Linked DNA regions of Homo sapiens: region 2 is linked to region 1. A link means that fine-mapping ties the variant in region 1 to the expression of a gene that starts in the linked region. Tissue or cell type: whole blood. Region 1 holds a variant in brackets; the other region holds the start of a gene. All regions are shown on one strand. Distances are between the middles of the regions.

Evidence for each region. PIP is the estimated chance that this variant, and not a neighbour inherited with it, causes the effect.
Region 2: SNU13 starts here. The variant in region 1 is fine-mapped to the expression of SNU13 in whole blood (TOPMed, PIP above 0.99).

Annotation. Positions count from the first base shown.
Region 1 is chr22:41,663,443-41,671,539 of GRCh38, forward strand. It overlaps XRCC6 (X-ray repair cross complementing 6), which reads left to right. Exons shown (of 13, transcript NM_001469.5): 13 at 180-599. The coding sequence ends at 373. Among named protein-coding and RNA genes, the nearest start is that of SNU13, 21 kb to the right of the region's middle. The variant G/C (reference allele first, on the strand shown) is at 3,657.
Region 2 is chr22:41,684,056-41,692,150 of GRCh38, forward strand. It overlaps SNU13 (small nuclear ribonucleoprotein 13), which reads right to left and starts at 4,812. Exons shown (of 3, transcript NM_001003796.2): 1 at 4,739-4,812. The coding sequence starts at 4,741. It also overlaps the pseudogene C22orf46P. RefSeq lists enhancers at 4,012-4,181, 4,732-4,911 and a silencer at 4,293-4,492.

The sequences.
Region 1 (8,097 bases):
TTTTGCACTTTAAATGAAGCTACCTTATCGAGATAAGTCTTCCCCATGGTGTCCTAGGCTGGCATCACAGCTTTATGGTTAATTGCAGCCCAGATTATACGAGGTCCCCCATGCCATGTAGCTGGGATGCCACTTGTATGTAGCATTTCCAGTCACTCTCTCCTGACCTTTCCCCCCAGATAATGAAGGTTCTGGAAGCAAAAGGCCCAAGGTGGAGTATTCAGAAGAGGAGCTGAAGACCCACATCAGCAAGGGTACGCTGGGCAAGTTCACTGTGCCCATGCTGAAAGAGGCCTGCCGGGCTTACGGGCTGAAGAGTGGGCTGAAGAAGCAGGAGCTGCTGGAAGCCCTCACCAAGCACTTCCAGGACTGACCAGAGGCCGCGCGTCCAGCTGCCCTTCCGCAGTGTGGCCAGGCTGCCTGGCCTTGTCCTCAGCCAGTTAAAATGTGTTTCTCCTGAGCTAGGAAGAGTCTACCCGACATAAGTCGAGGGACTTTATGTTTTTGAGGCTTTCTGTTGCCATGGTGATGGTGTAGCCCTCCCACTTTGCTGTTCCTTACTTTACTGCCTGAATAAAGAGCCCTAAGTTTGTACTATATACTGTTCTTTTGTGTGAAGGAGAAAGGTGTGTATGCCTTGCATCCAAAACTTGCTAGCCATCACTTAGCTTAATTTTCTCTTTCATTGGGAACACTCATCACCACAATGGAAACAAAACAAGTATCAGAGGGGCGGGTGAGAGTGTGACGGGTCAGGGCAGGCGAAGGCATTTTGGGAGTAAGAAGCCCTAGCAGGATTATATTATCCTTATCCTCTGTCCTCTAGCCTGTTTTCCTTTAAATGTGTCATGTTAAGGTATAAAAATCAGATTTCTGAAGCAGTAAGAAGGTAACACTTAGTTCTGGGGCCATTTGCTTCGTGAGTAAACAGCAACTCCTTCTCATTGCATTCCTCTTAATGCAACATTAAGTCATGCAAAAATATACCCATTTTCTGTTGCCCTGAGAATTTGGGTTCCAGAATAAGTGAAATGAAGAGTTACTCCTCTTGTGTTTCAGGGGAGCTGTAGGAAATTCAAGATGAGAAAATGTCCTAGTATTTAAAGAAGGGGAAGAGGACAGGAGTGTCTTTTACCTTTTCTTCTTCTACATCCCTGCTCTGTCCTCCCTGTCCCTTTCCTGCTCATTCTACTGCCACTGCTTTTGAAGAATTAGCCTGAGGGAAGGAAGGAGAGCATCTGGAATTGTTGGTCTCCTCTGAGGATGTGAGTAAGGGTTTGCAGGTCCTGTGTCCTTCAGGACTAGAATGAGCAGCACCTCATGAGGAAGAGTGTAGGAGGGGCCAAATTACTCCTTTCAGCTTTGGATTCTTGGCTCTAAGCTTTATAGGTTTTTTTTTTAACCTGTTATTGCTTTTGTTTCTGTTTGAAAGGAGATACTGTATTTTTTTGTATTTCCTTACGTGTCTGGGCAAGAGGGGAAGATAATTCTCCCATTAGATGCTTAGAAATTGTTGAGAAATTGGACCATTCCCCTTAAATGGAGCAAGTTTGGAAACTGGATTCTATAGGGGGTTAATCTACCAAGGTAGATTGAAATTACACTAGTCACAGCCAGTCACCTGCAATAGGAGGGCAAGGAGTAGCCCCACTGAGCCCTTGGTATCCGACCCTGGATGCTGGAGCTAGTGAAGAGCAGCCCTGGGGTGAGCTCCAGGCTGGCTTTGCTGTGCACACTATGCCCAAGCCTACGCTCCTTTGCCTCCTACTTCCAAAATGGAGAGAATGAGAGTTCAGAGGTCAAACACCTACCAGAGCCAGGCAGGTATGTGAATGTTAGACAAATCACCCGAGGTCTGTGATAAACAGCAACAGAGTGATATTTCTCTGTAAATCAATGATGCCTTCTCTGCCTGCTGAGTCCCCCACCCAGGAGAGAAGAAATACCATGTTCCAGTGGAATTGGTTAGGCCTTTGGAAGCTCACGAGGCTGATTTAGCAAATTTACATCTTAGTGCCATCATATATACAAGTGACCTTGGGCAGTTTATGAGGCATTTTGAGCCTTAGCTTCCACATTCTTATAATAACGTCACATGGTGAAAATGAGAAAATACGTAAAAGAACATGGCACTCAATAGATACAGTTGGCCCTCTGCATCCGCAGGCTCCACATCGATGGATTCAACCTACATGGATCAAAAATATTTGGGGGCCAGGCGTGCTGGCTCACGCCTGAAATCCTAACACTAGGAGGCCCAGGCAGGCGGATAACGAGGTCAGGAGTTCGAGACCAGCCTGGCCAGCATGGTGAAACCCCATCTCTACTAAAAATACAAAAAATTAGCCGGGCATGATGGCGTGCACCTGTAATCCCAGCTACTCGGAAGGCTGAGGCAGGAGACTCGCTTGAATCTGGGAAGCAGAGGTTGTAGTGAGCCGAGATCGCGCCACTGCACTCCAGCCTGGGCAACAGAGCGAGACTCTGCCTCAAAATAAATAAATAAATAAATAAATAAAACTTGGGGAAAAAATCGATGGCTGCGTCTGTACTCTTGCTCTTGTCGCCCAGGCTGGAGTGCAGTGGCGCGATCTTGGCTCCCTGCAACATCTGCCTCCTGGGTTCATGCGATTCTCCTGCCTCAGCCTCCCGAGTAGCTGGGATTACAGGCGCACAACACCGCACCTGGCTAATTTTTTACTTTTAGTAGAGACGAGGTTTCACCATGTTGGCCAGGCTGCTCTCAAACTCCTGACCTTAGGTGATCCACCCGGCCAGGCCTCCCACAATGCTGGGATTACAGGTGTGAGCCACCGCGCCGGGCCAGACTTTAAATTTTGTCATTAGCCCGCCGGGCGCGGTGGCTCACGCCTGTAATTCCAGCACTTTGGGAGGCCGAGGAGGGCGGATCACCTGAGGTCAGGAGTTCGAGAGCAGCCTGGCCAACGTGGTGAAACCCCATCTCTACTACTAAAAATAAAAAAATTAGCCGGGTGTGGTGGTGGGAACCTGTAATCCCAGCTACTCGAGAGGCTGAGGCAGGAGAATCACTTGAACCCGGAAGAAGGAGGTTGCAGTGAGCCGAGATCACGCCACTGCACTTCAGCCTGGGCGACAGAGCGAGACTCTGTCTCAACAACAACAAAATTGTCATTATTCCATAAATAATACAGTATGACAATTATTGACATAGCATTTACATTTTATTAGGTATCGTAAATTATCTAGAGTATAATTTAAAGTATCCGGGAGGCCGTGCGTAGTTCATATGCAAATACTGCGCCATGTTACATCAGGGACTTGGGCAACCTCAGATTTGGGTATCCGCATGGAGTGCCCTCTGGCGCTTGACTTCTACCGCGGCCATCGCGCTTCCATCCGCCAGGTGGCGACACAGCCGGCGCGGAGCGCCGATCTGGGCCTGCGCATGCGCGCCACGGACGAGGCAGGCCGGGTGCCTGGGCCTGGGAGCCATAAGCCGGAGAGTCTGGCGGGCTAAGCTCAGCGGCATCCGGGTTCCTTGTGGCCGCCGCAGCAGCTCGAGAACACGAATCCGTTTGGCCAAAACTGAAACAAACACACGGATGCACATATGTCTGTTTACTTCTAGGCCAGGTGCAGAGGGAACGTCTGGAATGACACTCAACGAAAACTGC[G/C]GTTACTTGGGAAGATGAGCCTTTTACCTCTCAGCCTTTCCCCTTCTGTAATGTCTTGTTTTAATGTCTTGTTGAAAACCAGAAGAGGCCGGGCGCGGTGGCTCACGCCTGTAATCTTAGCAGTTTGGGAAGCTGAGGTGGGGGTGATCACCTGAGGTCAGGAGTTCGAGACCATCCTGGCTAACACGGTGAAACCCCGTCTCTACCAAAAATACAAAAATTAGCCGGGCGTGGTGGCAGGCGCCTATCATACCAGCTACTCGGGAGGGTGAGGCAGGAAAATCGCTTGAACCCGGGCGGCGGAAGTTGCAGTGAGCAGAGATCGCGCCAATGCACTCCAACCTCAAAACAAAACAAAACAAAAAAGTAAACAAAAAAAACAGAAGAAAGGCAGGGCAGGACCACGAGCTCTGAGGGAGATTAGTCATCCACTTCCTCTCCCTGCCGACTATCCAGAAATTCCATCCTCATTAGCATCCGTATTAGGAGAGGAAACACACCCAGGTTTTACTGGAACGGGAGCTATGTATTCAGCCTTTCTTGTTTAAGCCACACTGCCCCTGACTGTAAGGACCCTGATGCAACCTTCTCTGCATCATGTATGGAAGCAAATCCTACGTGGACTTCTATCTTCTGAGGACTCAGGCGGCTCGTGGGCCATGCCAGCACTTCTAGTGTTCCTCGCTACCCTGCAATTTTAGCATGACCATTTATTTATTTATTTGTTTGTTTGTTTATTTATTTATTTATGACTACAAAGATCCAGAAGACAAACATGACCATTTCTTTCTTTTTTTTTTTTTTTCTGAGATGGAGTCTTGCTCTGTCGCCCAGGCTGGAGTGCAGTGGCACCATCTCAGCTCACTGCAACCTCCACCTCCCGGGTTCAAGTGATTCTCCTGCCTCAGTCTCCTACGTAGCTGGGATTACAGGCATGTGCCACCATGCCCAGCCAATTTTTGTATTCCTAGTAGAGAAGGGGTTTCACCATGTTGGCCAGGCTGATCTCCAACTCTGGACCTCATGATCTGCCTGCCTTGGCCTCCCAAAGTGCTGGGATCAAAGGCGTGAGCCACCGCACCTGGTCCTTTTATTTTTATTTATTTTTATTTTTTTTGAGACTCAGTCTCGCTCTGTCGCCCAGGCTGGAGTGCAGTGGCACAATCTTGGCTCACTGCAAACTCTGTCTCCCGGGTTCAAGCAATTCTCCTGCCTCAGCCTCCCGAGTAGCTGGGTTACAGGCATCACCACGCCCAGCTAATTTTTGTTTTTGTTTTTTGAGACTGAGTCTTGCTCTCTTGCCCAGGCTGGAGTGCAGTGGCATGATCTCGACTCACTGCAACCTCTGCCTCCTGGGTTCAAGTGATTCTCCCGCCTCAGCCTCCCAAGTAGCTGGGATTACAGGTGCCCCCCACCATGCCTAATTTTTGTATTTTTAGTAAAGACGGAGTTTCCCTTTGTTGGCCAGGCTGGTCTCGAACTCCTGACCTCGTGATCCACCCGCCTTGGCCTCCCAAAGTACTGGGATTACAGGCGTGAGCCACCACGCCCGGCTAATTTTTGTATTTTAGTAGAGATTTTGTATTTAGTAGTAGTAGTAGTAATTTTGTATTTAGTAGAGATGGGGTTTCACCATGTTGGCCAGGCTGGTCTCAAACTCCTAACCTCAGGTGATCCACCTGCCTTGGCTTCCCAAAGTGCTGGGTGGGATTACAGGCATTAGCCACCGCGTCTGGTGGAAACATGACCTTTTTTTTTTTTTTTTTTTGTTTTTGAGACGGAGTTTCACTCTTGTTGCGCAGGCTGGAGTGCAATAATGGCGTGATCTCAGCTCACTGCAACCTCCGCCTCCTGGGTTCAAGCAATTCTCCTGCCTCAGCCTCCCGAGTAGCTGCAATTACAGGTGTGTGCCACCATGCCTAGCTAATTTTGTATTTTTTTAGTAGAGACAGGGTTTCACCATGTTGGTCAGGGTGGTCTCGAACTCCAACCTCAAGTGATCCACCTGCCTCGGTCTCCCAAAGTGCTCAGATTATAGGTGTGAGCCACCGCGCCCAGCCAACATGACCATTTTTATTGCTGTGGTTTGACAAGGCGTCCCCATCCCTTCATCACTACCCCGCACCCTCCTCCCACCTTAGTTATCTATTGCTGTGTAACAAATTACACCCAGGAACTATTGGCTTAAAACAATAAGCATTCCTCTCCTACCTGAAAGCTAGAGTGAGGCTGGAGGATCTATTTGCTGGGAGGCCGTAATGAGCATGTTTCCAATTATCTCTGTCTTATGTTTTGACATCTTGGGGGGCCTTCCAGACCCAGGAATAAACTGCTCCTCTCAGGGCTAGCTTACTCATAGAGACAGTTACCACATATTTGTGAGAATGCCTCTCATGCATGCCAGTCACCTCCTTTATCTTTCACATACCAAAGCATTATTCCTCCTGTACTAACTCATCCCAGGACCAGATGCCAGGCAACTAGAGACCACCCCATAGCCCAAAGCCCACTGGAACGATTCAAACTAGCCAATCAATCCTAAACCGTTTATTCTGTCCTGCCTTTCCTGAGGAAACTCTGATAAAGGATGTGGCCTATGATTCCCCTTGCTCTAATTCTGACTCGTAAACAAAGCGCGATGTTTCTCCCATGGCCCTGTGCTGTGTGGAATGCCCCTTCTCGTAGGAAACGTACATTCTTTCAATGGCATTGACTTAGTGTCATCACTCAATCTGTTAATTAAAATCCCACAGGAGGCCGGGCGCGATGGCTCACGCCTGTAATCTCAGCACTTTGGGAGGCTGAGGCGGGCGGATCACGAGGTCAGGAGTTCGAGACCATTCTGGCTAACATGGTGAAACCCCGTCTCTACAAAAAAAATACAAAAAATTAGCCGGGCGTGGTGGCAGGTGCCTGTAGTCCCAGCTACTTGGGAGGCTGAGGCAGGAGAATGGCGTGAACCTGGGAGGCGGGGCTTGCAGTGAGCCAAGATTGCGCCACTGCACTCCAGCCTGGGTGACAGAGCGAGACTCCGTCTCAAAAAAAAAAAAAAAAAAAATTCCACAGGTACAAATGAAACAGAGGCTCATTCCCATGGCTGGCAAAGGTGATGCCAGCTGTTGGCTAGAGGCCTTAGGACCTCCATGTCCTTAAGTCCATGGCAGCTGACTTCCCTTATAGCCAGTTATCTGAAGAAATGAAGGCAGAAACTGCAATGTCACATCGATTCTGCCAGACTCTGAGTTGGTGTGGTAGACTATACGAGGGCGTGAATCGCAGGTGAGGAGCACTGGAGCCATCTTGGAGGCTGGCTGCCACAGGTCATTGTGAATATTGACTTGCTACTTTAAATTATTTCCTTCCTTCACAAGAGTATAGTTATCTTCCATCCCCATGACCCTACCCCCAAGTAGATACATCAGCTCAAGCCAGAGGCCATACTTGATTTTTCCAAATGTAACCTGGGCTAGACATGGTGGCTCATGCCTGTAATCCCAGCACTCTGGGGGACCAAGGCGGGCAGATCACCTGAGGCCAGGAGTTTGAGACCAGCCTTGACAACATGGTGAAATCTCATCTGTACTAAAAATGCAAAAATTAGCCGGGCATGGTGGTATGCACCTGTAATCCTAGCTACTCGGGAGGCTGAGGCAGGAGAATCTCTTGAACCCGGGAGGCAGAGGTTGCAGTGAGCCGAGTCTGCACCAATGCACTCCAGCCTGGGTGACAGAGTAAGACTGTCTCAAAAAAAAAAAAAAAAAAAAAAAGTAACCTGATGCCAGGGGAATGGGGGACACTCATTTCCAAGAACAAGCTGCCTTTCCATCCATCAGTTTGAGATCAAAGATAATGAAAACGTTCAAATACAACAAATAAATAATCTCTTTAGGTCAATACTGTAAATGTAAAACTATTTAATTGCAGGTTCTCTTGGGAAAGAGTTTCAGGAAACACTGAAAATCTGAAATTCCTAACCAGTTGTGTTTGGGGTCAGGGGAACCTTTGAGACCTGATGAAAGCAACGGATTCTCTCTCAAAAATAAAATGTTTAGAAACAAAAATCAGAAGGCAATCTCAGGCTGGGCCCAGTGGCTCACGCCTGTAATCCCAGCACTGTGGGAGGCAAAAGCAGGCGGATCACTTGAGGTCAGAAGTTTGAGACCAGTCTGGCCAACGTGGTGAAACCCCATCTCTACTAAAAAATACAAAAATTAGCTGGGCGTGGTGGCACACTTCTGTAATCCTACCTACTTGGGAGGCTGAGGCAGAGAAATTGCTCGAACCGGGGAGGTGGAGGTTGCAGTGAGCTGAGATCATGCCACTGCACTCCAGCCTGGGCAACAGAGACTATGTCTCAAAAAAAAAAAAAAAAAAAAAAAAAAAAGAAAGCAATCTCAGACATTAGTTATGTTTAAGTTAAAAAAAAAAAGTAGAATGTTAC
Region 2 (8,095 bases), 21 kb after region 1:
ACCACACCGGGCTAATTTTTGTATTTTTTAGTAGAGACTGGGTTTTGCCATGTTGGCCAGGCTGGTCTCGAACTCCTGACCTCAGGTGATCTACCTGCCTCGACCTCCCAAAGTGCTGGGATTACAGGTGTGAGCCACTGCGCCTGGCCGGGAGCAGAGGTTTAATAGGCAAAAGAAAGAGAAAGAACAGCTCTCTCTGGTGAGAAAGAGGGGCTTCGGAAAGGAAAAGACCCAGCAGTATGCTCTACTTTCTATTTCAGCAATTTCTCCTTTTGTTTTTTTTCTTTCCTTCTACTTTCTTTGGGGTTATTTTGTGCTAGTGTTTTTTTCTACCTTTTTATCCCGTTTCTCCCTAGCATTAGCATCTTAGGCTCCAAGTAATACTTTCATTATATCCTTTCATTTGTTTCTTCCCCCCTCTGCCCTTGTCACTTATGCTCTGGTATGTGGTATTTTCATTATTGTTCTGTTCTATTTTTGAATTCCTACTACAATTTTTAAATCTCTCTGATAGTTTATATTTTTCATTTCAAACTACTTTGTTACTAATTTTTAACTTATTTCCTTTTGGGTTAGGCAAAAATGGTATGTAATATTACCAATGTTAAAATTTGCAGGGCTTGCTTTATGGCCAATTTTCAAAAACGTTCCATGTTTGAAGAGTGTATTCTGAACTGGCTGCAGTGGCTCAGGCCTATAATCCCACCAACTTGGGAAACTGAGGCTGGGGACTGATTGAGGCCTGAAGTTTGAGACCAGCCTGGGCCACACAGTGAGACCCCCATCTCTAAAAATATTTAAAAACTTAGCTGGGGCAGTCCAGGCACAGTGGCTCACACCTATAATCCCAGCACTTTGGGAGGCCAAGGTGGGTGGCTCTCTTGAGGTCAGGAGTTCAAGACCAGCCTGGATGACATGGTGAAACCCCCGTCTCTACTAAGAATACAAAAATTATCTGGGTGTGGTGGCAGGCACCTGTAATCCCAGCTACTTGGAGGTTGAGGCAGGAGAATGGCTTGAACCCGGGAAGCGGAGATTGCAGTAGGTTGAGATGATGCCACTTCACTCCAGCCTGGGCGAAAGAGTGAAACTCCATCTCAAAAAAAAAAAAAAAAAGAATTACACCCTTTTTGTTGTTGAGACAGGGTCTCACTCTATCACTGAGACCAGAGTGCAGTGGCATGACAATAGCTCACTGCAGCCTCGACCTCCAGGGCTCAAGCGATCCTCCTGCCTCAGCCTCCTCAGTAACTGGAACTACAAGTGTGGGCCACCACTCCTGGCTAATTTTATTTTATTTTATTTTTTATTTTTTGAGACGGAGTTTTGCTCTTGTTGCCCAGGCTGGAGTGCAGTGGCACAATCTCGGCTCACCGCAACTTCTGCCTCCGAGGTTCAAGCAATTCTCCTGCCTCAGCGTCCTGAGTAGCTGGGATTACAGGCATGCGCCACCATGCCCGGCTAATTTTTGTATTATTAGTAAAGACGGGGTTTCACCATGTTGGCCAGGCTGGTCTTGAACTCCTGACCTTGTGATCCGCCCACCTCAGCCTCCCAAAGCGCTGGGTTTACAGGCATGAGCCACTGCACCCGGCCAACTCCTGGCTAATTAAAAAAAAAATTGTTTAGGCTGGGTGTGGTGGCTCACGCCTGTAATCCCACCTCTTTGGGAGGCTGAGGCAGGCAGATCACTTGAGGTCAGGAGTTGGAGACCAGCCTGACCAACACGGCAAAACCCCGTCTCTACTAAAAAAATACAAAAAATAGCCGGGCATGGTGGCACATGCTTGTAATCCCAGCTACTCGGGAGGCTGAAACAGGAGAATCGCTTGAACCAAGGAGACAGAGGTTTCAGTGAGTCAAGATCGTGCCACTGCACACCCAGCCTGGGTGACAGAGCGAGACTCTGTCTCAAAAAAAAAAAAAAAAAAATTTGTAGAGACAGGATCTCACTATTTTGCCCTGGGTGGTCTCCAATTCCTGGGCTAAAGAGATTCTCTCGCCTCAGCCTCCCAATTTCTGGGATTGCAGGCTTGAGCCACAGTGCTTGGCCACATCCCGTCTTTTAACTGGAGCACTCAGTCCCTTTACATATTTAAGTATTGGTATAATGGTTTCAAATTTTCCTTCTTTTGTGCCTTCTATTTGTTCCACTTGTTCTGTTTCTTTTTCTTTCTTTCCTTTCTCTGGATTTATCATTGCATTTGCACTATTTTCCCCTCTACTGATTTGGAGTTTATTCTTTTATCTTTTTTTTTTTTTTTTAAGAGACGGCATCTCCCTCTGTCGCCCAGGCTGGAGTGCAGTGGCGCAATCTCGGCTCACCGAAACCTCTGCCTTCCATATTCAAGGAATTCTCCTGCCTCAGCCTCCCGAGTAACTGGGACTACAGGCATGCACCACCACGCCCAGCTAATTTTTGTATTTTTAGTAGAGATGGGGGTTTCACCATGTTGGCCAGGTTGAACTCCTGACCTAAGGTGATCCACCCGCCTCGGCCTCCCAAAGTGCTGGGATTACAGGTGTGAGCTACCACGTCCGGCCATACAAATGTTTTATTTGATACTACAGTAGGGATTTTTTTTTTCTTTGACACAGTCTTGCTTTGTCACCCAGGCTGTAGTGCAGTGGCATGATCTCGGCTCACTGCAAACACCGCCTCCCCGGTTATAGTGATTCTCCTGCCTCAGCCTCCTAAGTAGCTGGGATTACAGGCACGCACCACCACGCCTGGCTAATTTTTGTATTTTTAGTAGAGATGGGGTTTCACCATGTTGGTCAGGCTGGTCTTGAACTCCTGACCTCATGATCCACCCGCCTCAGCCTCCCAAAGTGCTGGGATTACAGGCGTGAGCCACCGTGCCCAGCTGGAAATTTTGGTTAATAATTTATCACAAGTTTTATTTATTTATTTTTTTGAGACGGAGTCTCAAACTGTCACACGGGCTGGAGTGCAGTGGTGTGATCTTGGCTCACTGCAACCCCCGCCTCCCAGGTTCAAGCGATTCTCCTTGCCTCAGCCTCCCAAGTAGCTGGGATTACAGGTGCCCACCACCACGCCTGGCTAATTTTTTTGAATTTTTAGTAGAAACAGGGTTTCACTATGTTGGCCAGGCTGGTCTCAAACTCCGGACCCCATGATCCACCCGCCTCAGCCTCCCAAAGTGCTGGGATTACAAGCATGAGCCACCGCGCCTGGCCCTGTTGCATGTTTTAAAATAGATATACTTAGAAATATTACATGGAACCCCCAAAGTATGTACAACTATGATATGTCAATTTAAAAAAACTTTAAAAATTGCCATTGTTTCCAACAACCCATTCTCTGGAAATCAGGATTCTCAAATCTCAATAAACATCAAATTCATAAAAGAGGAAGACTTCAGGAATCTGAACAATCATTAAATACCTAAATGTTTCACTATTAGTCAACAAAAAAGTTAAACTCAATTTTAAAACCAAACTAGCTTATAAACACTAATTGAAACTTGCTTAGGGTGTATTTATTTGCCTTTCAATTTCTTCAGGGGTTAAATAAATTAACGAATGATATCATACCACCAGCCAACCTAAATCCCTACCTAGCATGATCAGTTTGGTTTCGCTGTACACCAGACAGCCAAAACTTGCAAGGTTTTGATTGAACAACAAATACTGCGTGCTTACTCTGTACCAAGCATCAGGACTAGATGTTTACCATGCTTTATTTCATTTGATCCTCACAACACCCTCATGCACTGTCATCCCCATTTTACAGTTGAGGAAAACTGCAAAGTTCAACCTGAGACCATCCGATTCCAAAACGTTTCAGGGAGCTGCGTTAAAGCGAGCACTGAGTTTGGAAGCTTCAAGTTCTAGGCTCAGCCACGTACTAAGCTTCAAAATGCATGGGAGGAGGTTTGTGGGGAGTGCTACCGCCGGGATCCAAGCTCCACTGGAAGGATTAACTATAGAAGTTACAGTGCTTTACAAATTCTTCCCTCCTCACCAAGTGCCAACCAAAACTACTACGCCAGGACACACGTTTTAGAACTTTCCCTAGATGTTTAAAAGTCAGAGACGACCAAGAGTTTAGAGACGCCGCACGTGGTGCTACCAGACTTCTGGTTTTTGAAGCCACCGCCTTGCAGGAGAAGCCTTTCCTGCACTCCAGGCCGTGAGTCGCGCTCACTTCATGTTCCCCACAGCCCCCAAATGCCAAAGGCTCCTCTAGGTCCCTGGCGCGTGTGACTCGCGGCGGGCACTAAGCGCAGACCCATGGGAGATCTCCTCCTGAACCCCAGCAACGGGGGTGGGGTGAGGTAGGGTGGGTAGGAGAGGTTGATCCGAATCCCAGGGTCCCACGCCATCGTAGATTTCGTATGAAAAGAAACAAGGAAAAAAAAAAGTTGGAGCCAAGTTTTCTTCACCCAACTTTTTGCCCTCTCCCACGTGGGTTGGTCTCTTTCTCCCAGGCTGGGCCATGCCCCCTCCGCTCGCTGCAGGCCTTTTGCCAAGCAAACAGACCGTGCGGCAAAGCAACACAGCTGCGGGGATCCTAAGGTTTCCTGAGTTCTAACCTCGGGCCAGGCTGCTGGGACCCCGCCGCTGCTGGGGTTCTAACTAAGGGCCCGGCGGTTAAGACCCAACGCCGGCGGATGAGACGGCGCAGGCTCTAAGCCTCCATCTAACAGGCTAGGGAGTGAACGCAACCCTGAGTCTCCCGCTTCCCGGTCCCTCGGCCGGCGCACGCACTCACCATGGCTGCGGTTCCGCGGGCTCAGCACTCCTAGGGGAGCGCAGCTGACGTTTCAGAAGCACTCGCGTGCACCGGAAAAACTCACAGAAGCAGCAGCGGAAATGGCCCCGCGCGGCAGGAAGCGAAGGTGACGCTACGCGAGCGAGTGGGCCCCGCCCTCTACGGGGGCACTGGCGCGGAAACTGGCCCTGTGTCGAAGAAGGAACGTACTTTGGCGTTCTTATGAGCTGCCTAGTACAAATTATTGGCAGAAACAATGAATTAAACATTCAAAAAGTAACCCACCGGCCGGCCGCAGCGGCTTATGGCTGTAATCCCGGCACTTTGGGAGGCCGAGGCGGGCGCATCACCTGAGGACAGGAGTTCGAGACCAGCCTGGCCAACATGGCGAAACCTCGTCCCTACTAAAAAATACAAAAATTAGCCAGGCGTGGTGGCGGGCGCCTGTAACCCCAGCTACTTAGGAGGCTGAAGCAGGAGAATCGCTTGAACCCCGGAGGTGGAGGCTACAGTAAGTTGAGATCATGCCACTGCACTCTAGCACTCCAGCTGAGGCGACAGAGCGAGACTCTCAAAAAAAAAAAAAAAAAGGCCGGCCGGGTGCGGTGGCTCCCGCCTGTAATCGCAGCACTTTGGGAGGCTGAGGCAGGCGGATCACTAGGTCAGGAGATCGAGACCATCCTGGCTAACACAGTGAACCGTCTCTACTAAAAATACAAAAAATTAGCCGGGCATGGTGGCGGGCGCCTGTAGTCCCAGCTACTCGGGAGGCCGAGGCAGGAGAATGCCGTGAACCCCGGAGGCGGAGCTTGCAGTGAGCCGAGATCGCACCACTGCACACTGCACTCCAGCCTGGGCAACAGAGTGAGACTCCGTCTCAAAAAAAAGAAGAAAAAAAAGAGGGCCGGGTGCGGTGGCTCACGCCTGTAATCCCAGCACTTTGGGAAGCTGAGGCGGGCGGATCACCTGAGGTTGGGAGTTCGATACCAGCCTGACCAATATGGAGAAACCCCCGTCTCTACTAAAAATACAAAATTAGCCGGGCGTGGTGGCGCATGCCTGTAATCCCAGCTACTCGGGAGGTTGAGGCAGGAGAATCGCTTGAACTTGGGAGGTGGAAGTTGCAGTGAGCCGAGATCGCGCCATTGCACTCCAGCCTGGGCAACAAGAGTGGAAACTCGGTCTCAAAAAAAAAAAAAAAAATTCCAGCCACTAAACAGTTAAGGCCTGGCTCATTATAATTGGCTGACGTCCCTGCCTGCTCAGATATTTAATATTTTGAATAGAACTTTTGGGTAAAAGAGTCTTCAGGGTAACATTTATTTTCCCACCAACACTGATCCTAAGATGGGAAAAGTAATTCCCCCACAGGAAATCAGGATACTGCAAGCAACGAGAAAGGCATGTTGAGTGGTTAAACAAGAATACATGTATTCAATACAGTGTTCATTAAATGTTTGATAATAGAAGGACAGGCAGATCCAAGTATTTCATAGGAAGAAAGAAATCAAGCAGACCGCAGGTTATATCACCCCATCACACATTCAGGGAACTTAATCTTTTCATTCCAGAGGATGGGTTTGTTTAAAACAAGTTCTTCCTCCTAATTACTTTTGAACAATTCCCCAATACTGTCCTTACCTGCACCAAGAGCATGCTAACCAGGCCTGGCACCAGGGTCAGAGTTGAGGCTGGGGCATCAGCCCCCTTTGTGAGGTGGCCTCAGTGACAGGGGTGCTATGAGGTGGCGGCTATCCTACTGCAGCTGGCTGCATCAGATGTGCCAGGCCTGCCCTCTAGCTCCCAACACCATCTGCCTGATCTAAGCTTTGCCATGTTGTTGTCACTGCTGGGTGCCTGTGCTGTGGTGGGGCCATTCCATGGCCCTGAGTGGGAGCCAGTGCAGGGCCTGCTCTCCCAGAATCACAGCTGCAGGGACCCTCAGTGCTGTGGCAACCTGCTTGTCCTCTGCCTCTTTCTGGTCTGGCAGGTCCGGCACTGTTGGCACCAGGTCACCAGGACCCGCTTCAGCACAAGGAATGTCATCAAGGTGAGTGGGCCCCATACACCTTCACCCTTCTTCCCTCAGCACCATGATTGTCTCTGTCACTTGTTACAAGGACCTTGTTTTATGCCTGGTGTACCAGAAATGAATCAGAGGGAAACTCAGGCTGCTCAGGGAGAGCATCGGCCAAGCCCCAAACCCAGGAGTCACCCTGAGCTCCTCTCTTTCCCTCACTCCACACATTCAATCCATCTGCAGGTCCCAGGGGCTATACTTGCAAATTGTATCTCAAATCTGATCACTTCTAACCACACCACACCCTCCTGGGCAGAGACACCATCATGTCTCAACTGGACCATAGCAACAGCCTTCTGCCTGGTTCTTGCTGCTTCTCTTATCCAACCACAGCCTATCCTCCATACAGTCACCAGAATGGCCTTCTTCTTTCTCTCTCTCTCTCTCTCTCTCTCTCTCTTTTTTTTTCTGAGACAGAGTCTCACACTGTTGCCTGGGCTGGTGTGCAGTGGTGTGATCTTGGTTTGCTGCAACCTCCGCCTCCCTGGTTCAAGCGATTCTCCTGCCTCAGCCTCCCGAGTAGCTAGGATTACAGGCGCCCGCCACCACGCCTGGCAAATTTTTTTTTTTTTTTGTACTTTTAGTAGAGATGGGGTTTCACTTTGTTGGCCAGGCTGGTCTCGAGCTCCTGACCTTGTGATCTGCCTGCCTCGGCCTCCCAAAGTGCTGGGATTACAGGTGTGAGCCACTGTGCCTGGCCTCTTTTTTCTCTCTTTTAAAAAAAAAAATTGGTCCAAGGATAATACACACACACAATTACAAGTGTGTAGATCAGTAAATTTTCATAATTGAATACATCAGTTTGTAGCATGCAGATTAAGAAACAAATGATTACCAGCAGCCCAGAAGTTTTAGTCACAACTCTGCGGATTTCCTTTTCTTTTCCTTTTTTTTTTTTTGAGATGCAGTTTTGCTCTTGTTGCCCAGGCTGGAGTGCAATGGTGTGATCTCGGCTTACCTCAACCTCTGCCTCCCAAGTTCAAGCAATTCTCCTGCCTCAGCCTCCTGAGTAGCTGGGATTATGGGCATGCACTACCACACCCGTTAATTTTGTATTTTTAGTAGAGGCGAGGTTTCTCCGTGTTAGTCATGCTGGTCTCGAACTCCCGTCCTTATGTGATCCGCCTGCCTTGGCCTCCCAAAGTGCTGGGATTACAGGAATGAGCCACCACTCCTAGCCAACTCTGCAGATTTCTTTCTTGTTTTTCTTTTTTTTCTTTTCTTTTTTTTTTTTTTTTGAGATGGAGTCTTGCTGTGTGGCCCAGGCTAAAGTCCAG